Linked DNA regions of Homo sapiens. The gene in region 1 interacts genetically with each later gene. Each region holds a gene or a part of one and is shown in the gene's direction. Other genes may lie near its edges.

Region 1 (7,512 bases):
CTTTCATTTAACTCATGCCCATCTTCTCTCTTCCATTTTATTTTCTGAGACAGGTTTCCCTCTGTTGCCCAGGCTGGAGTGCAGCGGTGTGCACTTAGCTCGCTGCAGCCTCGATCTCCTAAGCTCAAGTGATCCTCCTGCCTCAGCCTCCCAAGTGGCTGGGACTACAGGCATGTGCCACCATGCGCAACTATTTTTTTTTTTTTTTTTCTGTAGAGATGGATCTCTTTTTGTTGTCCAGGCTGGTCTCAAACTCCTGGGCTCAAACGATCCTCCCACCTCAACCTCCCAAAGTGCTGGGATTACAGGCGTGAACCACCGTGCCCGGCCTCCCTTTCATTTTACTCATCCACATCTCCCCCTCCCTGTCTCTGCTTCTCCTCTTTACGATGATTTGCTCAGCCAGGCACGGTAGCTCATGCCTGTAATCCCAGCACTTTGGGAGGTCGAGGCGGGAGAATCACTTGAGGTCAGGAGTTAGAGACCAGCCTGGCCAACATGGCGAAACCCCGTCTCTACTAAAAAATACAAAAATTAGCCAGGTGTGGTGGCACGCACCTGTAATTCCAGCTACTCGGGAGGCTGAGGCAGGAGAATCGCTTGAACCTGGGAAGTGGAGGTTGCAGTGAGCAGAGATCGCGCCATTGCACTCCATCCTGGGTGACAGAGCGAGACTCTGTCTCAAAAAAGAAAAAAAATGATTTGCTCCATACTTCAAGGTTATCATCCATCTCCTGTTTGGGGTGATCCCTTTTCTGTCTCTTCCACCACTCCAACACTCCACCATCATCTCTCCTCCCTCGGTCAGGAATGACCTCTTCCCTGATTACACTTACACTTTCCCACCCCAGCCCAGCCTCTTCCTTCTCTATCCACTCCCCACCATTTCCACCTCCTGCCAGTTAGATTCTTCCCCTCTCACTATTTCTCTGCCCCCCACAGTGTCTTTCCTTACCCCTCTTCTGCCTAAGAAAGTCTATTAACTCTCACCCCTCCCACATTTTCCTTCTCTTTAGGACAGTGTCATTTTCAGAATTCTGTGACAATAATGATTTCTATCACACCACTTATTTCTGTTCCCTCCATCTCATGATGGTCTTTCCCTCTTTCCTGCTCTCCACTGATTTCTTCCCACGCTCCCGTCTTGAGAACCATGATGATCCCCCCTCAGCATGGTAGTCTCTTCCACCCTGAAGGTACACCCCACCTCCCCACCAGGTCCCAGGCCACATCCTCTTACTTGAAGTAGCCTTCCCGACCAGGAGCACACATGTGTCCTTGTCACTGCTGCAGGTCTTCATTTGGCCATGGCACCTGCTCCCCGCCGCCGTACATATTTCGCAGTGTAGTGGGCACCCTGCAGTGTAGACAGAGGGCGAGGCTGTAGTCATGGGTGGTGTGGTCTTCGGACCACGACTTTGACTTAGGACTTTTGTGTCCTGAGAGAGGAGGGACCAGCAGCTCCCTGGTTTTTCATGGGCGGGATGTTGACCACTGCCCAAGGAACTGTCCAGAGTTGGACGAAGAAGCAGTGGTGATGCCAGCAAAGCTGCTTCCAGGGGCGGGAAGCGACTCCACCATGAAGCCTGTTTGCCTAATTACATGGCTGGGGATTTTGGATGCCAGGGTCCGCTGAGAAAGCTCAGGGGCAGGGAGGGGTCGTGATGGAGGTTTCCATGGACTTTTGTGAAACTTCAGGTCCAGCTGGTTCTTGAATGTGGGATTCTCCTCCTTGAAGGTGCCATGTAGGTCTTGTAGACAGCAGGAGCTCAGGCAGGGGGCCCTGAGGCTAGGGTCTGCATCCCAGGTCAAGGAGGGAGAGTGAGGACCAGGAGGGCAGAGGACTTGAACTTCTTGGTTCTGAGAGAGGGGACAGCTAGGGGCCCAGAAACCTGGGTCCTGGGGAAAGTGAGGCTTACTTGGACTCCTGTGTGCAGGGGAGGAGGGGGCTGGGGCCTGAACTTCTTAGTCTAAGGAGAAAGGAAATCTCTCTACCTCTTTTAAAAAAATATATCATATGATATTAATGTATTTTTTTTGAGATGGAGTTTTGCTCTGTCACCCAGGCTGGGGAGTGCAGTGGCACGATCTTGGCTCACTGCAACCTTTGCCTCCCAGTTTCAAGCAATCCTCTCACCTCAGCCTCCCAAGTAGCTAGGATTACAGGCGCCCACCACCAAGCTCAGCTAACTTTTTTTGTATTTTTAGTAAAGACGGGGTTTCACCATGTTGGCCAGGCTGGTCTTGAACTCCTGACCTCAAGTGATCCACCTGCCTCGGCCTCTTAAAGTGCTGGGGTTACAGGCATGAGCCACCGCACCTGGCCTTCTCCCTCTTTTTTTTTTTTTAATTATATTTTTAAAGATTTCCCTTTCCAGCCATGCTCTCATCTGATTTCCTAGAATTGAGATGTGTTTGGGATCCTTCCTGGAGGATGGAGGATTCAGAGCCCACCAAGCCCCTCTCTCAGGGATCCAATCACAGGAGCTTTTCTTCTCTGGGACCCCCAGGCTTTCTCTTCCTTTACCCTTGGCCTCTTCCATGAATCTGAATTTCCAGAATGCCTCCCCGTTCACCTTGAGGACTTGCTGAAGGCTCTTTCTCTCTCTATATCTCTCTCTCTCTCAATCTGGGACCTCTCTCTTCCTGAGGTCCCAGAGACAGTTCAGGTCCCTTGTCACTTACCAAGACCCAGGAGGGTGCAGAGCAACACAAAGGCCAGCAGAAAGGTCTCTGGTCTCCTGGAGAGCCTCATGGTGTGTGTATCAGCAGTACCTGGTCCCCAGCTTTTATAGGAAGCTGAGGAGGGGTGGGTCTGGACCCACATTCACCCTACGGGGAGAAATAGCTGAGGTCAGAACCCAGGGCAGTCCTCTGTGGCCTCCGGGTTGGGAAGGCAGAACCAGAATCCAAAAGTGACCTGGGCATCTTGTGCCCAGCCCCCCACCTCCATGGAGACCCCAGGAGTCTGGGCTTCCATCCCCCTCTTCTATTAGAACCCAGAAAGTCACCACCCTGTTTTCTCACCTTCCCACGGCCCATTGTTGTTTGTTTGTTTGCTTGAAGACCAAGACGGAGTTGGGCCTCTTGATTCCCAGTGGCTGCAAGAACTGGGATTCCCTCTCCTTCTCTCTCTTCCCCTCTCCTCCCAAGGAAGCACCCAGTGTGGGTAGGGCCCCACCTTGGAGCACCCAGCATGTCCAGGCTGGTCCTGCGGGTGCGGGGTGCCTTGTCTCCCTTCCCCTCTCTTCATGTGCTCGGCTCACACTCCTTGTGTGTTTGGGCTGTCTCCAGCTGCGACCCCACCCAGGGCTGCACCCTTGGGTCTCCAAGGCACCGAATGAACAGAGGGATGTCTGTCGGCAGTCATAGGCGGGCGTAGTAAAAGACAGATGCCCACAGTCCACATATTGGGAAACTGAGGCTTTTGTGGAAGAACTCCAGGATAGGGGTGTGTGTGTGTGTGTGTGGTGGGGGTTGGGCACATGCTTTGTGTTATATTTAGGACGCAGAACCCTTCTCTTTTGGCCTCAGGCATAAGGCTGAAAGAGATCTGCTAATTTTTTTCGCGCGTGCGCGCGCGCGTATGTATGTATATGTGCGTGTGTGTGTGTGTGGCAAGGGGACAGAGAGAAGAGTGCAGCCGCCTGAGCCATTTGAAGAGATCCTGTTGCGTAGAATCCAGGTTCCCTACGAAACTACGAAAATTCACTCAGATTTGCTGTCCTAGCCCAGCGCAGTCGCTCACGCCTGTAGTTCCAGCACTTTGAGAGGCCGAGGCAGGTGGATCGCTTGAGCTGAGGAGTTCGAGACCAGTCTGGGCAACATGGCAAGACCCGCCGCCCTCTCACCCCATGTCTCCACAAAAAATACAAAAATTAGCCGAATGTGGTGGCGCGTGCGTGTAATCCCAGCTACTTAGGAGGCTGAAGTGGGAGGATCCCTTGGCCCCAGGAGACAGGGGTTGCAGAAAGCCGAGATCGTGCCACTGCACTCCATCCTGGGTGAGAGAGCAAGACCCTGTCTCAACAAAAAATTTTTAAAAAATAAAATAAATAATAATACAGCAAAAAGATTTGCTTTCTCGGCTTCAGTGTGGGCGGTAACTCCATCGTGCAATGAGAAAGGCGAATTTCTTCCAGACACCAATCCCGGAGGTCGCTTCTGTTGCTAGGCTCCCAGAAAGCAGGGTTCGGACGTCATTGGGAGGCGAGGCTAGAGCGGGGTTGTGTGTGGCGGAGGGAGGCGGGGCTGGAGGAAACGCTCGTTGCTAAGGAACGCAGCGCTCTTCCCGCTCTGGAGAGGCGCGACTGGGCTTGCGCAGTGTCGACGCCGGCGCCGGCGCGCCGGGGTTTGAAAGGCCCGAGCCTCGCGCGCTTGCGCACTTTAGCCAGCGCAGGGCGCACCCCGCCCCCTCCCACTCTCCCTGCCCCTCGGACCCCATACTCTACCTCATCCTTCTGGCCAGGCGAAGCCCACGACGTTGACATGCCGGAGATCCGCCTCCGCCATGTCGTGTCCTGCAGCAGCCAGGACTCGGTGAGGGACCTGCATGGGGGAGGTTGGAAGACGTGAGGGAATTAATGAGGATAGCTCTTAAAAGAGCTTTTGGGGTTCTCTTGGAAGTCTAAGGAGAGTCATGGGGGGATTTCCAGGAGGCTAAAAGTGAATTGTGGAGAGATGTTGAATTAGGGACGTTCCGGCGTCTAGGGAACTTCCGGAGAGAAAAGGAGGAATAGGGAAGCTTTCTTGGAGAGCCCATAGGTGAACTTCCACGGGAAAGTGTTGTAGGGGAAACTCCAGGCAGAGTGTCGGGGGATTAACGGGAGAGCTTAAATCTGGGGGTCGTAGAGGCCTTGGGAGGACTCAAAGGAATCATCTGAGAGCTGGAGGCCTAGCTGTCATCTCTGTGCCCTAATTCTCCTCTCCCACTGTTGTTTCCAGACTCACTGTGCAGAAAATCTTCTCAAGGCAGACACTTACCGAAAATGGCGGGCAGCCAAGGCAGGCGAGAAGACCATCTCTGTGGTCCTACAGGTGATCCTGCCACCCCACCTCCTCCTCACTAGGAGTCTGGAGTCCGGGGTTCCAGATTCTGCTCCTGAGCCAACTGGCAGTGGGTTTAGTCACTTTCTTTGCTGGGCCTCAGCTTCCTTACTCGGAAAATGGGCAGCATAATCCCTGTGCCCCTCAGCAGAGAGGAAAGGAGACCCAAGGATTAAGTCCAGGATGACCACAGGAATCAGTGTGTGGTCCTGGGCAGGTGGCATCTACTTTCTGGGTTCCAGTTTCCTCAGCTGGAACAAAATGAATCATTGCCACGTACTCTGCCTCCTGCAGCCAGTGGGCTCAGGGCTGGAAGGTGTCCAGGAAGGTCGTCTAAGCCAATCAACTCCACTTTAAAGAAGGGGAAACTGGCCGGATGCCGTGGCTCATGCCTGTAAACCCAGCACTTTCAGAGCCTGAGATGGGAGGATTGCTTGAGCTCAGGAGTTCCAGACCAGCCTGGGCAACATATCAAGACCCTGTCTCTATTTTTATTAAAATAAATAATTTTTTTTAAAGAATAATAGCCAGGTATGGTGGTTCACACCTGTAATCCCATCACTTTGGGAGGCCGAAGCTGGAGTATTGCATGAGCCCAGGAGTTTGAGACCAGCCTGGGCAATACAGTAAGATGTCATCTCTACCAAAATTTTATAGATTAGCTGAGTATGGTGGTGTGCACCTGCAATCCCAGCTACTGGCGAGTCTGAGGTGAGAGAATTGCTTGAGCCCAGGAGATGGAGGCTGCAGTGAGCTGAGATTGTGCCACTGCACTCCAGCCTGGGCACCAGAGTGAGACCCCCAAAATATAAAAAATAAAATAATAATAATGAGAGCTGGCATTATTCAACGTTACCTGTCAGTCGCTGCTCTACACACCTCACTCACATGGATTAGCTCATTGAGTCCTCATAAAAAACCCCAAGAGGCAGGCTCTGTTATCCCCACTTTTACAGATGAGGAAACTGAGGCCCAAAGAAGTTATACAATTTGCCTGACAGTCAATCTTTTATTTATCTGTTGAGACAGAGTCTCACTCTGTTCCCAGGCTGTAGTGCAGTGGCATGATCTTGGCTTGGCTCACTGCAGCCTCTACCTCCTGGGCTCAAGCGATCCTCCCACCTCAGCCTCCTGAGTAGCTGGGACTGCAGGTGTGCACCACCATGCCTGGCTAGTTTTTTTTGTATTTTTTTAGAGATGGGGTTTCCACCATGTTGCCAGGCTGGTCTCAAACTCCTGGGCTCAAGCGTTCCTCCTGCTTCAGCCTCCCAAAGTGCTCGGATGACAGGCATGAACCATTGTTCCTGGCCTGGGGGCTGCTTTATGACTATAAGGAGCAGAACACTCTGTGGATAGTGCTAGGGTGACGGAAAAATTAACCTTTTGTGAATGGGCAGTCATTCAGCAAATATCCACTCCTCTCCCTCCCACTGGAGGGGGAGTATATTTCCCTGCTCCATTGATGAGTTTGACCATATGATTTACTTAATGGAATTTCAGCACATCTAACTTCAGCAAGGGCCTTAAATGCACTTGGCTTTTGTGCTCCCATAATATGCCATGAGAACATTTGCCAGGTTACTGCTAATCCCAGAAAACTGTGGAATCTCATGGAAGAGACCTGAATCCTCCCAAACTGCAGCCAAAGCAGCCATCCCACAAATTCTTATAAGAATGCTTGTTGGTATAAGTCTCAGTTTTCATGTTGGGAGGTCGAGGTGGGTGAATCGCTTGAACCCAGGAGTTTGAGACCAGCCTGGGTAACATGGGGAAACCCTATCTCTACGAAAAATTATAAAAAATAGCTGGGCTTGGTGGCGTATGCCTGTAGTCCCAGCTACCAGGGAGGCTGAGCGGGGAGGATTGATTGAGCCCATAAGGTTGAAGCTGCAGTGAACTGTGATGGTTTCACTGCACTCCGGCCTGTGAGACAGAGTGAGACTGTATCTCAAAAAAAAAAAAAAAAAAAAAAAGAAAAGATCTCAGTTTTAGGATGATTTGTTACACAGCATTATTACAGTGTAAGTTAATACAACTTGGTTGTTTTAAACCACTGAGATTAGGGACTCCTTTGTTACTGTAACATCATCTGGTCCACCCCAATTGATGTCAGTGTTTAGTGCCTGTCAACTAATGGCCTCCACTTCCCAGGTTCAAATGATTCTCATGCCTCAGCCTTCTGAGTAGTTGGAATTTACATGCCTGGCTAATTTTTGTATTTATAATAGAGACCGAGTTTTGCCATGTTGGCTAGGCTGGTCTTGAACTCCTGACCTCAGGAGTTCAAGGCAAATGAGCACCAAATGCTAATTTAAGTGATCCACCCACCTTGGCCTCCCAAAATGTTGGGATTACAGGCATGAGCCACTGCACCTGACCTCAGTCTTTTAAACTGTGATAGATACAGATTGCTGACAGTTTTAGTCTTGAGATCTAGATTCAAGCCCCCAGCTCTTCCTCTTAATC
Region 2 (7,109 bases), on another chromosome or scaffold:
TGCACACGCGGCCTGGTCCTGACAACACCTGGGCTCCCCCACAACTTTGCTCCGAAATTGGTGTGGGTGCCGGGAGCGGGGAGAGGCCAGGCAGCGGGAGCAGGCATTTCCAAGTCTGTGAGGGCAGGGGGCCTTCCCGGCCCTGGAAAGAGCAGGGATGCCTGGGTTTGCAGCCGTGGTTGGGCGGCTGCAGCTGCACCCAGGATGGCTGGGCTCCCGACCCTGCAACTCGGAAGGGGGCGGGGCTTCCACCTGTCTTGCACCTCAGAAGGGGGCGGGGCTTCTGCCCACTAGCGCCCTGGAGAGAGCAGCCCTAGCACCACCTTCCTCACCGCTCCAACTGGGCTGCCACTGCCATCAATAGCACATTTCAATTTGTACTAATCACATTTCAAGTTCTCCCTAGTTACTTGTAGCTAGTGGCCACCATATTGAGAAGTTCAGGTCTAGGCTTTGCTGATTGGATCTCTTTAGTATTACTTAGCATATTCTTTTTTTTCTTGTAAGTTGGTAACATATTCAGATTTTCTTTTCAATTTTTAAACAGAAGAATACTGTGAATATCAACATTGACACTGAACACATTTGATGAGTTCTACTTTAGAGAAATTTTTTTTGCAAATGAAACTGAGTCACTTTAAGGATTAAAAGCTTTTAATTTGTATTTTAGTGCCACACCAGAGGAATATAATACAGTTGTACAGAAGCCAAGACAAATTCTGTGTCAATTCATTGACCGGATACTTACAGATGTAAATGTTGGTAAGAAACCAATTATTTCTTATATAAACTTTATAAATTAGACTTTTCTTTTCCATGTATAAATTATAGTAGCATTTTCTCCATGTAGTTTTAGATATGGAGTATTTATGATAGTTACTATTTTCAAGCAAGTTATTTGTTAATCAGTATTGCTTATTGCTTGTTACAAAATTTGAATTAGGCTTTTAAAATAATTCTCTTTTCCTGTTTGTTATCTAGATTTTCTACTGCTTGCTATGAGTTCTTTAATATTGGATATTATATGTAAAAATATTTGTCCAGTACCAATCATGTGGACCCTATTTTGGTTAGCTGTTATGCCAGTGGTAGACTAATAGCAAATGCCACCCAAAAAAACCTCTTTAAGTAAGTTACTCTTTAAGTAGGTTCATGCCTGTGCCTATAGGAGATTATAGGATTATGTGAGTTACTGAATCAATTATTGCCTGTTTGTGCCAATCTGCTAGACAGAATATTACCAACCTGGCAAGATGGTGTCACATTTGTCATATCTGTTGAAATTACATGGGAGGGATAATATAAAATGGCATTAGGCTCAGGGTTTATAATTTGGATTCCAAATTTGGCGCAGATTTTATGACTTAGACTAGCCATTAATCCTTTCTTTTTCAATCAGTAAAATGATGGGTTGCTGAAAAATAACAAAGGACTACTGAATACTTACAAGATGTGTTTTTGTATCGTATTCATATTCCCTCCGTTTAGACTACTTGCCCTTCCCCTCTCTGACCAACTCCTCATCTAGGAATCATTTCCTTCACAGTGTCCTCCCAGATACCTGTTTCTCCTTATTCTGGATTAGTGCTGTTACCATATTGTATTATAATTATTAGTTGGTTTGTTTGGCGCCCCACTGGATTGTGAGAACTTTTTTTTAATCCTTAGATTTTAGCATTGCCTGGCATATTATTCCTGAAGTACATGTTTGATAAATAGATGTATGGTAGAGGAATGCATGTGATTTTTAAACATTTAAAATTAGATAAGACTGTAGTGTTGGCTGGGCACGGTGGCTCACGCCTGTAATCCCAACACTTTGGGAGGCCGAGGTGGGTGGATCACCTGAGGTCAGGAGTTTGAGACCAGCCTGGCCAACATGACGAAACCCTGTCTCTACTAAAAATACCAAAATTAGCTGGGTGTGGTGGCACACACCTGTAGTCCTAGCTACTCAGGAGGCTGAGGCAGAAGAATCACTTGTACCCCGGAGGCACAGGTTGCAGTGAGCCAAGATCACACCACTACACTCCAGCCTGGGCAACAGAGTGAGACTGTGTCTCAAAAAAAAAAAAGACTGTAGTGTTTAGCCCCATCAATTTAGCTTGAATGTTGTTGAGTGCTGTGCTGGATATAATTCTGGTCACCAAAGTCTGGTTCCCCACCCCCACCCCACTTTTTGTTTTTTTTTTTTTAATTTTAAGAGACAGAGTCTTGCTTTGTTCCAGGCTGGAGTGCAATAGTGTGATCGTAGCTCACTACTGCCTTGAACTTCTGGGCTCAAGGGAATCCTCCAGCCTCAGCCCCCTGAGTAGCTGGGACTATAGGCACACTACCACTCCCAGCTAATTTTAAGAAAAATTTTTTTTGTAGAGACGGGATCTTGACATCTTATCCAGGCTGGTCTTGAGTTCCTGGGCTCAGGTGATCCGCCCACTTCAGCCTCCCAAAGTACAGGGGTTACAGGAGTGAGGCACCTTGCCTGGCCCACAGTCTGGTTTCTTAACAAAAGGACCATTGTTTAATTTGTCATGACTCTTTAAAATGAATCTTATTGTTTTAGTTGCTGTAGAACTTGTAAAGAAAACTGACTCTCAGCCAACCTCCGTGATGTTGCTTGATTTCATCCAGCATATCATGAAATCCTCCCCACTTATGTTTGTAAATGTGAGTGGAAGCCATGAGGCCAAAGGCAGTTGTATTGGTAAGTGCTGTTATTCATGCATTCACTTGCCATCTGTTCTATAAAATCCTCCTTTTACTGCTCTTCTGAAATATTACATGTACAGGATTATACTTTTTTGGGTCAGCTTTGCTATAAATTGAAGGAGCAAAATGGTAATGGTTATTTTTCCTTCACATATCCTTATTGTTTTCTTTTTAGTATTGTATACTAGGTACTTAGAAATAATCAAATTTGTTTATTTGCCATTGAACACTTTGGCATGGTTTTCTTTTTTCTGTTTTTGGTAATCTCTTTCTTCTAGATCAGAGCTTGGCAAGCTGTAGTCCACAGGGTGGCTGCCTGTTTTTGTGAACAAAGTTTTGGTGTTTTGTTTTGTTTCCTTTTTTTTTTTTTTTTTTTTTTTTTAAATAAGACAGGGTCTCGCTATGTTGCCCAGGCTGGTCTTGAACTGGTAGACTCAAGGGATCCTCCTGCCTCAGCCTCCTGCATACCTGGGACCATAGGCACATGCTACTGTGCCTGGCTTCAGTTTTTGTAAACAAAGTTTTATTAGAACACAGCCATGCTCATTCTTTTACTTATTGTCTGTGACTACTACAAAGGCAACTTGGGCACTCAAGCCAAAAATATTACTATCTGGTCCTTTAAAAAAAGTTTGCTGACCGCTATTCTATATATTGAAGCTTTTCTCTAGGCTTATTCTTTATTGCACCTACTACTTTTGTCCCTTCATTGGTGTCTTCATAAAGAGATGCAAAATAAACATTTTTTTTGTATAATGGATAAAGTATTTTAAAATTTTTTGTTCAAACTTTAACTCAACTTTGATAGCATGTCCTCCAAGAAGTTTTTTTCTGAGCACTACTTCTAACTGCTTAGAACTGGCTTGGTTATTCCTTTATTCTCTCTTAGTACTAAGTGTTCTGCATTTCATCTATCATAGAGGCTATTAAACTGTGCTCTAATCATTGGTTTGTCTATATTCTTTCCTACAGTAGTTTTTAAACTACAGGTCATAACCCACTAGTGGGTTATGAAATTAGGCAATTATCAGCATTTAAAACAAGATGAAATAAACTAGAAAATATCATAGGCTGGGCACGATGTCTCACGCCTGTAATCCCAGCACTTTGGGAGTTCGAGACCAGCCTAGGCAACATGGCAAAATCCTGTCTCTACCAAAACCAAACCAAACCAAACCAAAACAAAACAGAAAAACATTAGCTGAACATGGTGGCACATGCCTGTGGTACAAGCTACTTGGAAGGCTGAGGCACACTAATTGCTTTAGCCTGGGAGGCAGAGATTGCAGTGAGCTAAGACCATGCCGTTGCACTCCAGCCTGGGTAACAGAGTGAGAACCTGTCTCAAGAAAAAAAAAAAGAAAATATTATAGTACATTGTATGTAATAAGAGTAAGTACTATTTAATGAACCTTTTGTTTTAAATATTTAAATAAAATGCATGTATATGTACTGGGTCATGATATAAAATGTTATTTCTTTGTTGCAGTCAAAAAGCTCAAGAAACTGTACTGTGAGATTCATGAGGACAGGACTATGACTGATTTATTCTTGTGTACCTGAGACAGAGTCACCACTCAAATTTTAGTTGAAAGAATGACAATAGCTACCCTTTATTGAACATTTATTTTACTTTGGAACTGTGCTGAGTATTTCATGTGCATTTTCTTATTTGGTCCTCACAGTAACCCATAACATAGATAGCATTATTCTCCTTATACATGAAATTACAGAGGTTCAGAGAAATGAAAAGTTTATACAACTAGTAAGTGGAAAGCTAGGACCTTGCCTGTCTGACTCCAAAGTTGTTACAGGCATACCTCAGAAATATTGTGGGTTCAGTTCCAGACCACTACAATAAAGTGAATATTGCAATAAAGTAAGTCACATGAATTTTTTGGTTTCCCAGTGCATATAAAAGTTATGTTTACGTTGTACCTTAAGTGTGGAATAGCATTATGTCTAAAAAACAATGTATGTACCCTAATTAAAAATACTTTATTACTAAAAAATGCTAACGATTATATCATCCTTCAACAAGTTGTAATATTTGTGCTGGTGGAGTGTCTTGCCTTGATGTTGAGGGCCTTTCTCTGGATTAGGCTTTGGCTTAAGGGAATGTTGTGGCTGGTTTGATCTTCTTTTTTTCCTACTGGAAATTTCCTCATCTTTTAACGATTTGATCTTCTATTCAGAGTACAAAAACTTTCTCCATACCAGCAATAAGGCTGTTTCACTTTCTCATCAATGGTGCGTTCAGTGGAGTAGTACTTTTAATTTCCTCCAAAAACTTTTTCTTTGTTTTAACAAGTTGGTTGTTTGGTGAAAGAGGCCTAGCTTTCAACTTGTCTTGGCTTTCAACATGCCTTCCTCAGTAGGCTTAATCATTTCTAGCTTTTGATTTGAAGTGAGAGATGTGTGACTCTTCCTTTCATTTGAACACATAGAGGCCATTGTAAGGGTTATTAATTAACCTAATTTCAATACTGTGTCTCAGGGAATAGGGAGACACAAGGAGAGGGAGAGAGATGGGGAACTGCTGGTCGGTGGGTCAGAACACATACATTTATCCATTAAGTTTGCCACCTTATATCGGTGTGGTTCATGACAGCTCCAAACAATTACAATAGTAACATCAAACGTCACTGATCACAGATCACCATAACAGATACGATAATAATGAAAATGTTTGAAATATTTTGAGAATTACCAAAATGTGATACAGAGACATGAAGTGACCACATGCTATTGGAAAAATGGCACTGATACACTTGCTTGATGCAGAGTTACCACAACCTTCAATTTGTGACAAATGCAGTATCTGCAACGTGCAATAAAACTGGGTATGCCTGTGTTCTAAACTATTATGTTTCCATTGTGAAGAGAATGTTTTACACTCTTGTTAGTGAAGTTTATTCTTTAAAAGTCAATCGTCAAGGATTTAGCAAATGAATTAGCACTTCGGATATACTTGTTTATTTAATATCTTTTTTGTTTATTTCAAAGAATTCAGTAATTGGATCATAACGAGACTTCTGCGGATTGCAGCAACTCCCTCCTGTCATTTGTTACACAAGAAAATCTGTGAAGTCATCTGTTCATTATTATTTCTTTTTAAAAGCAAGAGTCCTGCTATTTTTGGGGTACTCACAAAAGAATTATTACAACTTTTTGAAGACTTGGTTTACCTCCATAGAAGAAATGTGATGGGTCATGCTGTGGAATGGCCAGTGGTCATGAGCCGATTTTTAAGTCAATTAGATGAACACATGGGATATTTACAATCAGCTCCTTTGCAGTTGATGAGTATGCAAAATTTAGAATTTATTGAAGTCACTTTATTAATGGTTCTTACTCGTATTATTGCAATTGTGTTTTTTAGAAGGCAAGAACTCTTACTTTGGCAGATAGGTTGTGTTCTGCTAGAGTATGGTAGTCCAAAAATTAAATCCCTAGCAATTAGCTTTTTAACAGAACTTTTTCAGCTTGGAGGACTACCAGCACAACCAGCTAGCACTTTTTTCAGCTCATTTTTGGAATTATTAAAACACCTTGTAGAAATGGATACTGACCAATTGAAACTCTATGAAGAGCCATTATCAAAGCTGATAAAGACACTATTTCCCTTTGAAGCAGAAGCTTATAGAAATATTGAACCTGTCTATTTAAATATGCTGCTGGAAAAACTCTGTGTCATGTTTGAAGACGGTGTGCTCATGCGGCTTAAGTCTGATTTGCTAAAAGCAGCTTTGTGCCATTTACTGCAGTATTTCCTTAAATTTGTGCCAGCTGGGTATGAATCTGCTTTACAAGTCAGGAAGGTCTATGTGAGAAATATTTGTAAAGCTCTTTTGGATGTGCTTGGAATTGAGGTAGATGCAGAGGTAAGTAATTTTTCAGGTTACTAGTTAAGTATGTATTTTGTTCATCATTTAATTGTATACATATGTGCAAAATGTAATAATAAGAAAATAGAATATCTTTAATAGTAATTTATATTTGGAACATAATGATTTTCATAGTGTAGTCTGGCTCACTATTATGGACTTTTACTTTGATTTCAGAAGGATTTGTTCATTAAGTTGGTAATGAACTGCCAATGGAGTAGAATGTTTCTAAGTAGAATCTGTGAAGTGTAAATGTATTTGTTGCATTATTAATTAAAAGGGGGCAGTTACCAACTTAATTGCAGAAGCTTTGGTCAATCAGATTATGTGTCTGACAAGTTATAATCAATCACTTTTAGAAAACCTATGAATGATTAATCATGCCAAATTATGCGCTTTTTTCTATTTGGACTGTGGGAGTCAGGTAATACAATAAAATCATCAGAGATGCAGTAACTTGATTAAATATTTTAGTTTATTAATCTTGCTGGATTAAAGTTACATGAAGAAAGT
Region 3 (7,109 bases), on another chromosome or scaffold:
CACACACGGTTATGAAACAGTGAAAATAGAAAATGGAAGCCAGAAGAGAATCATATATGATTTATTGCCAAATTTTTTCTACATTTTTCCTCAGATTGCCAACTCTAGCCATAACAAAATTTCATAGATCTTAATTTTTTTAATATTTTGTAATGTTTTTCAACTGTTTTAAAGAAGAAAAACTTTCATATTATTTAGAGGAAAATCAGGTTTCAAACTATGTTATCCAATTTTAATTTAAATATGTATATTTACATGTTTGAATAAAGGAGGATCAATACCAAGAATGTTAACAGTAGGCATCTGTTTCTGACTTTCGAGATTTGGGGTGGTTTCGGTTTTTGAATAGTTACCTATATTTTCACTTTTGTCCGCAGTGAACAACTTGTCATTAAAATAATAAATAAGGGAATGTCTTTTTATATTGTAGATGTGAAAAACCCTTGACACGATTGCATGTCACTTACGAAGGTACCATAGAAGAAAATGGCCAAGGCATGCTACAGGTAGGTGAATCTTAGTAGTGTCTGTGTATGGTTAGGACTTTTTCTTGTCAAGCTTCTGACAGCAAAAGAAATTTGAAAAACTGTTTATTTGTCTCCTAAACTGATTTAATGCAAAGAAGCATGATAGCAGAATGAAGAAAAACACCAAACAGATCACTTTGACAGCCTTGGTAATGTTGTGATTTGCCAGTGTATACTCTCTGTTTCTTATATGTGCTTCTCTAAAAAGCCTTTGACAGAAAATCCCAAGATCTGGACAGCATCAGCCTCTTGGTTCAGACATTGATAGTAGGTTGACAGTGGAGGAAGTTCCCAGGGTATAGTCTTGACAGACTGTCACCAGGCATTTTTATTCTTTTTCCTTAAAGGCTCTTCTTGCTCTGCCCCAGTTGATGACCAGATGGAGATGTTTTTCTGCCACCAACAGCTTTGTTTAGGTTGAGGGGGCAGACATCTAAAACTGATTGATAAGAAAGGCCTCTCTCTCATATGTAACAGTTTCACGCACGTGAGCTAGCTGTTTGCTATGTCTTTTCCCTGTTAAAAGCAGGTAATTCTGGTCCACTTCTCAATCTTTGTTAATAATCTGTTACCGCCTTTACCTTTAAAAAGTATTTTTGGAGAAGGGGGTTAACAAAAGCCCCGTGTTTAAAATATAGTAATATCTAACCTAATCTTTTGATTTATAATGCTTCTTTAACATTCACTAATGTTAGTGTTTTGTGTTCTTATCCCATTTATAAGAGCATTGTAAACTGAGTTTTCTTTGAAAGAAGCTTGTATACCATCTCATTTATACTGATAATAGTTTATTTTTCTTCTTAGATTCTTATTTGGTGCTTATATTGGTTCAGAATCTAAAGAAAGCAGTTGCCTGAAAATGGACTGATTTGTTTGAATAACTTAATGCTCACTATAAGATTTACGTCTAGTTATTATTTAAATGAAACTGAGATTCTTTTTTAAATGGCCTTTTATTTGGACATATTTGTAATTAAAATCTTCAAAGAGACAAACTATGTTTTATTCTAAATCACCTTCTCCCAGTGGTTATTTGAGCTTATAAACAAAAACAAAACATATTTAAATTTGCATTTACTCCTATACCTTTTTTCTGTTTAAAAAATAATCTTAAAATATGCTTAAATATTGGTTCAAATTAGTATCACTTTTTCCCCCACATTCCCCTCTTGATGAAGTTCTTTCCATCTTTAAAGTCTTGGATAAACTGAGAGATTCTTAATACACATGAACTAAACAAAGTTACTGCTAGTTAGCACCACAGGAATGCTGACCTTTCATTACAATACAATTCAACAAGGAATTATTTAACAACAGTTAAGGTTGAGATCCTCCCCACTTCCTCGGAATATATTATAGATGGAAATGTGAGACCTCGGTAGATTAGAGAATACCGTAAGGGCTTCTTGCTATTAATTGTTCTCCCTACCCATGCCATGTCTCCGCAGGAGATCGGGGAATATTGTATTGCAATGCTACAGAGCTCCTTGTGTAGCATATAAATTACATGATGCTGAATGGCAACAACAACAAAACCTCTCTGAGGAGCTTTATCATTCCTGTCTTTTCATCAAGTTATAATTCAGAAGCTGAGTAATCTGAATGAGTAGCTTTAAAGTGACTTGGAAAATAACTGGCTAAAAATAAGGATGCATTCACATTCTTGTTTTCATGTACTGGAACAGGTTTCTCAACTGTTGTAGAGGGTCTTTATTGTTAAGAACTTTTTTAAGTAGTAAAACTTTGGTTTTCTAAAAGACTTTGGCATTTAGAGGCATACTGAGTTTAGTGTCTTTATTTCTGTGCACACCTTTCAAGTTAAAAATGTGGGCCTTTTATTCAAAGAGTAAACAATAACATACACATTGAATGTATTTCATCATCATTATCAAGTAGTACATAAGTTGGATAGAGCTTATCTTTTTATTTTTGTTATGTACCTTATTCCAGTAAAAATTAAGTTAGGCCAATCTTAAACCTCGTCTGTTTCTCATTTGTAGTCACAATATCATTATACTTTTAGGCACTCAGCCAGTCTCTTAGTTCTCAAGTACAGTCCATTTTATTTCTTTACCGAGTTTCTTCTCTTTCCTTTACTTTACCACTTTCCTGTTTGAGGCCCTAGTAGTGCCTGTATAAACTATTTAGTACTCACCTAACCAGCATTTTTACTTTTAGTTTTACAGTTTTCCATTTATTCTTTAAACTCTAGCCTGAATTATCTTCCTAAAACATAGGTCCAGGTGTTACTTGAATCTTTCCCAGAACCTTCAGAGGGAAATTGAGTAAAAATTCCCTAGACCTCAGACCACCTCATCACCAACTGTAAGCCTCCACCTACTCTACACTGCAGGCAAGCACAATGAATCTGTTTACCATTCCCCTCATATAGTGATTTACATTTGTTTTTTTTTTTTGCCCTGTGTCCTTGTGCAGCTATGCCCTCAGCCTGCATGTCAGCTGCCACATCCCCTTGTAAAGCTTTCCTATCTTCCTCCCATGCTCCAATTTTAGTTAATTGTATTATTAGAAAGTATCAAATACATAGTAACAAGCTCTTCAATAATCATCTTCTCATTCTGCTTATGCTCATTCTGACTGCCATCTAAATTACAAATGCCGTGAGGCCAGGAACCATACATACCTTATTCATCTTTGTATCCAGTGATTCCCAGCACAATACTCAGTAAATATTTGTTGAATTGGACAGTTTAAGCCATGAATCACCCAGTGCCCATAGACCTCATATGTAGTAGGTAGCTAATTCTAATCAACAGACTGGTTTCACCAAAATTATTTTCCTATTTAAGCTAAAGAGTTACTCTGGTTTTTTAGCATTGGTTTTAGTACTCCAGAACACAAATCCAAATATATGATTCTCTCTGGTAGCTCAATTGAAGAACTCCTCAGTGGTATGTTTTAGTATTTTCTAAGTTCTCCTGTGGTAAAAGAAGACTGCTTCGCCTTCTATTAATTTCTGTCTTTTGACATATATTTTTACATATCAAACGATTCATACTATTGTTTTACTATTTTGTAAAATAGGCTTCAGATTGTCATTTAGTATCAGTTGCTTTAGAGAACACTGAAGTTTTAAGAAATCGTATATTTTAAAATAGTTTGAAAGAATATAAGCCTCATGGTATTTAGTAAATCCTATTTTACTTGTGTGTATGACTATGTATATACACAAGTTGTGTGTGTGTGTGTGTGTGTGTGTGTGTGTGTGTGTGTGATCTAACTCCTCAGATAGTCTCACTAAGGAAAAGATGGTTGCTATTTCTTACATACTGCTTCATGAGGCTGGCATAGTGCTGGACACACTGGACAAACGGAAATAATGCCAGCAAGTTGAGTTTGCTTTCTCTGGAGGATTGTGTAATTCTTCTTTATTAGTAGGCATTTGGGGATCCCATCATACTACTCCACATAAAGCTTAAGAGTTTCCAACCTAATTGGAAATATTACTTTAATTGAATCTTTGTTGCTATACTGGGTTTTCTTTCTTCCTTTTTTCCTTAGTTATATTTTTAAAAAGTAGTTTGTAATGTTCATGTAGTTTGGGGTTTGGGGTTGAATTTAGAAGGACAAAAATTCGATCTCTTTATTCTTACAATAAAGTTGGAAAAGGTTACCCAAAAAGTTGATTACTAAACTTTTCAGTTCTTTAGGGCAAGTGTTTGGTTACCATATTACATAAGAAAAGTTTAATTATATTAAAGTCACGTGAAATACATAAAGGGAAGTTGAGTAGTGAATGGGGGAGAATGACTTTGAAACCTTCCCAGATAAAGACCTCCCTTGATTTGTGGCCCATGAGACACAAATAGGTTTATAAACAAGAGTCTGTATGATACATAATATTTTGCCTAAAAGCTCCATTTTCCAGATTGCTTCTCTGGTTCTGGGATCCAGAAAAATGTGCAGAGATGTTAACTGCAGTGAGGTGGAAAGAGCTTAAGCAACCAAAATCTGCCCTTCCTGGGAAGATTACTTATTTGGGGATTGATTTTCATGGGAGAGGAAAAGATGAGAGCTTAGAGACTATGTGCTTCTTGATCATATGTGTAGGTATTTTTGACCATTATTTAATATGTCACATTTCCCCAACAGGTGGATTTTGCAAATCGTTTTGTTGGAGGTGGTGTAACCAGTGCAGGACTTGTGCAAGAAGAAATCCGCTTTTTAATCAATCCTGAGTTGATTATTTCACGGCTCTTCACTGAGGTGCTGGATCACAATGAATGTCTAATTATCACAGGTTAGTTTTGGGAAGCCTGGAAAATGGGGTAGTCTTCCCCATCTGTGAATATCTGTCATGAAGACTAGAGACTACCCAGTATAGCTTTTATCTTCCATGGGCATCAGTCCCAATATTTTTATCCATTAATTTATACTTAGTTTTTGAAATTATTACAGCCTTATTTTCCTAATCTTAAGTAAGACATCTTATTTTTACCTTTTCTTTCTTTCGTGGCATCTTTATCTGAGGAACAGGGATTAAAAACTATTCAGTTACCCCACAGTTTGAATTTTTTTTTTTTTTTTTTTTTTTTTGAGACAGAGGTTTGCTGTTGTTGCCCAGGCTGGAGTGCAATGGTGCAATCTCGGCTCACCGAAACCTCCTCCTCCCAGGTTCAAGCGATTCTCCTGCCTCAGCCTCCCGAGTAGCTGGGATTACAGGCATGCGTCACCACACCCGGCTAATTTTGTATTTTTAGTAGAGACAGGGTTTCTCCATATTGGTCAGGCTGGTCTCGAACTCCTGACCTCAGGTGATCCGCCCGCCTCGGCCTCCCAAATTGCTGGGATTACAGGCGTGAGCCACCACGCTTGGCAGTTTGAAATTTTATGACATAATAATGCTCTTAAGAAGAACATAGTGATATGCCTCTAGTATGTATTCTGTTGTAATTCTTCCATTTGAGAGTGATTTGTTTCTATTAAAAATAATTTTCAAGTGGTTTCTTGTACTTTAGTATGAAGACATTGTGTAAATATAAGAAGCACAGGAACAGTATTTAGAGAAATCAGTAACCTTTTGTTTACCCTATTTTGAATCCTAAAAGAAAAAGTTCAGTTATCATGGCCAGGCGCGATAGTTCATGCCTGTAATCCTAGCGCTTTGGGAGGCCAAGGCAGACAGATGGCCTGAGGTCAGGAGTTCAAGACCAGCCTGGCCAACATGATGAAACCCCGTCTCTACTAAAAATACAAAAATTAGCCAGGCACGGTGGTGGGTGCCTGTAATCCCAGCTACTCAGGAGGCTGAGGCAGGATAATCACTTGAACCCGGGAGGCAGAGGTTGCAGTGAGCTGAGATCGCGCCACTGTACTGCAGCCTGGGCGACAGAGCAAGACTCCATCTCAAAAAAAAAAAAGTCTGATTATCTTGGTGTTTCTTCTTGTCCTTCTTGATTTCTTTACGCTAATATGGGAGGAGGAGGGGGGAAATTTAGTCACGTGTATGCTTTAGGTCTGTTATAGAGATTTAATTTTTTTTTGTTTCTTCAGACTGAGATCACTATGTAACAGTATTTTCTTTGAATAAGCTATCAAGAAAAATGATGATTACCTCATATCTCTTAAGAAACTCTTAATCAGGCACCATATGTAAGTTGAGTCTTTTATTCAAGTACGTAAAAGAATATTCCCACATAAGTGCCGTTAATGCACCATGAGTTGCTGGTACTATTTTTTTTTCCTGAAAAAGTGGATTTTTTATTTCCACTTAGAATCTGTTACTGCTTGGAGATGAGTTTCGGGGTCTAAACACTCACCTGGGTTGTAGAATTTAGTTTATTGTTATTCCCAAAAATTATAATAGGAGAAAAACCCTCCCCATGAGTTATATAAAATGTGTACCCAACCGCATTACCTCCAAAGACATACATGACAAAACCGACTCCAAAGTCTAATCTTGAAGCCACACTGTGCCTCAGATAGATTTGTAGACAACCTTCAGAAGAGTATATTTTCTTATGTTTTGCTTTTAAGATTCTCTTTGACTTTCAATGGTTTGAATATGGTGTGTCTACATGCAGATCTCTTTGACTTTATCCTACTTGAAGTTTTTTGAACCTCTCTAATGTTTGTTATATTTGGTAAATGTTGGGCCATTATTTCTTCAAATGTTTGTTCTTCCCCTTTCCTCATCTTCTGGGACTCCCAAATTACGTGTTTGTTGATTCACTTGATGTTCCACAGGTCTCAGAAGCTCTGTTTATTTTTCTTCATTCTTTATTCTTCTTGTTCCTGAGGCTCAGTCTCAATTGCCCTGTCTTCAAGTTCACTGGTTGTTTTTTCTGCTTGCTCTAAACTGCTTTTAATCTCACTGGTGAATTTTTTATTTCAGTTATTGTACTTTTCAATTACAAATTTCTGTTTATTTTTTATAATTTCTATCCCTTTATTTATTAATATTCTCTATTTGAGAGGCATCATTCTTATACTTTAGTTTTTTAGACATAGTTTTCTTTAGTTGTTTCAGTATATTTTAAATAGCTCATGTAAATTCTTTGTCTACTAAGTCCAACATCTGGGCTCCTCAGGGGCAGTTACTACTGACTGCTTTTTTTTTTT

What was found.
Region 2: changes in XRCC1 (region 1) and ATR are lethal when combined (synthetic lethality), as found in Homo sapiens cells (one study listed by BioGRID).
Region 3: changes in XRCC1 (region 1) and PARG together harm fitness more than expected from each alone (negative genetic interaction), as found in Homo sapiens cells (one study listed by BioGRID).

The regions. Positions count from the first base shown.
Region 1 is NC_000019.10:43,572,435-43,579,946, reverse strand, and holds the start of XRCC1 (DNA repair protein XRCC1), read left to right. Parts: upstream 1-4,419; 5' UTR 4,420-4,488; coding exon 4,489-4,539; intron 4,540-4,944; coding exon 4,945-5,037; intron 5,038-7,512. Other genes in the region: PINLYP (phospholipase A2 inhibitor and Ly6/PLAUR domain-containing protein), read right to left, coding at 1,241-1,357, 2,686-2,827. UniProt on the Homo sapiens protein: Scaffold protein involved in DNA single-strand break repair by mediating the assembly of DNA break repair protein complexes. Negatively regulates ADP-ribosyltransferase activity of PARP1 during base-excision repair in order to prevent excessive PARP1 activity.
Region 2 is NC_000003.12:142,561,716-142,568,824, reverse strand, and holds part of ATR (serine/threonine-protein kinase ATR), read left to right. Parts: intron 1-670; coding exon 671-762; intron 763-2,563; coding exon 2,564-2,704; intron 2,705-5,715; coding exon 5,716-6,593; intron 6,594-7,109. UniProt on the Homo sapiens protein: Serine/threonine protein kinase which activates checkpoint signaling upon genotoxic stresses such as ionizing radiation (IR), ultraviolet light (UV), or DNA replication stalling, thereby acting as a DNA damage sensor.
Region 3 is NC_000010.11:49,854,985-49,862,093, reverse strand, and holds part of PARG (poly(ADP-ribose) glycohydrolase), read left to right. Parts: intron 1-430; coding exon 431-506; intron 507-4,640; coding exon 4,641-4,788; intron 4,789-7,109. UniProt on the Homo sapiens protein: Poly(ADP-ribose) glycohydrolase that degrades poly(ADP-ribose) by hydrolyzing the ribose-ribose bonds present in poly(ADP-ribose). PARG acts both as an endo- and exoglycosidase, releasing poly(ADP-ribose) of different length as well as ADP-ribose monomers.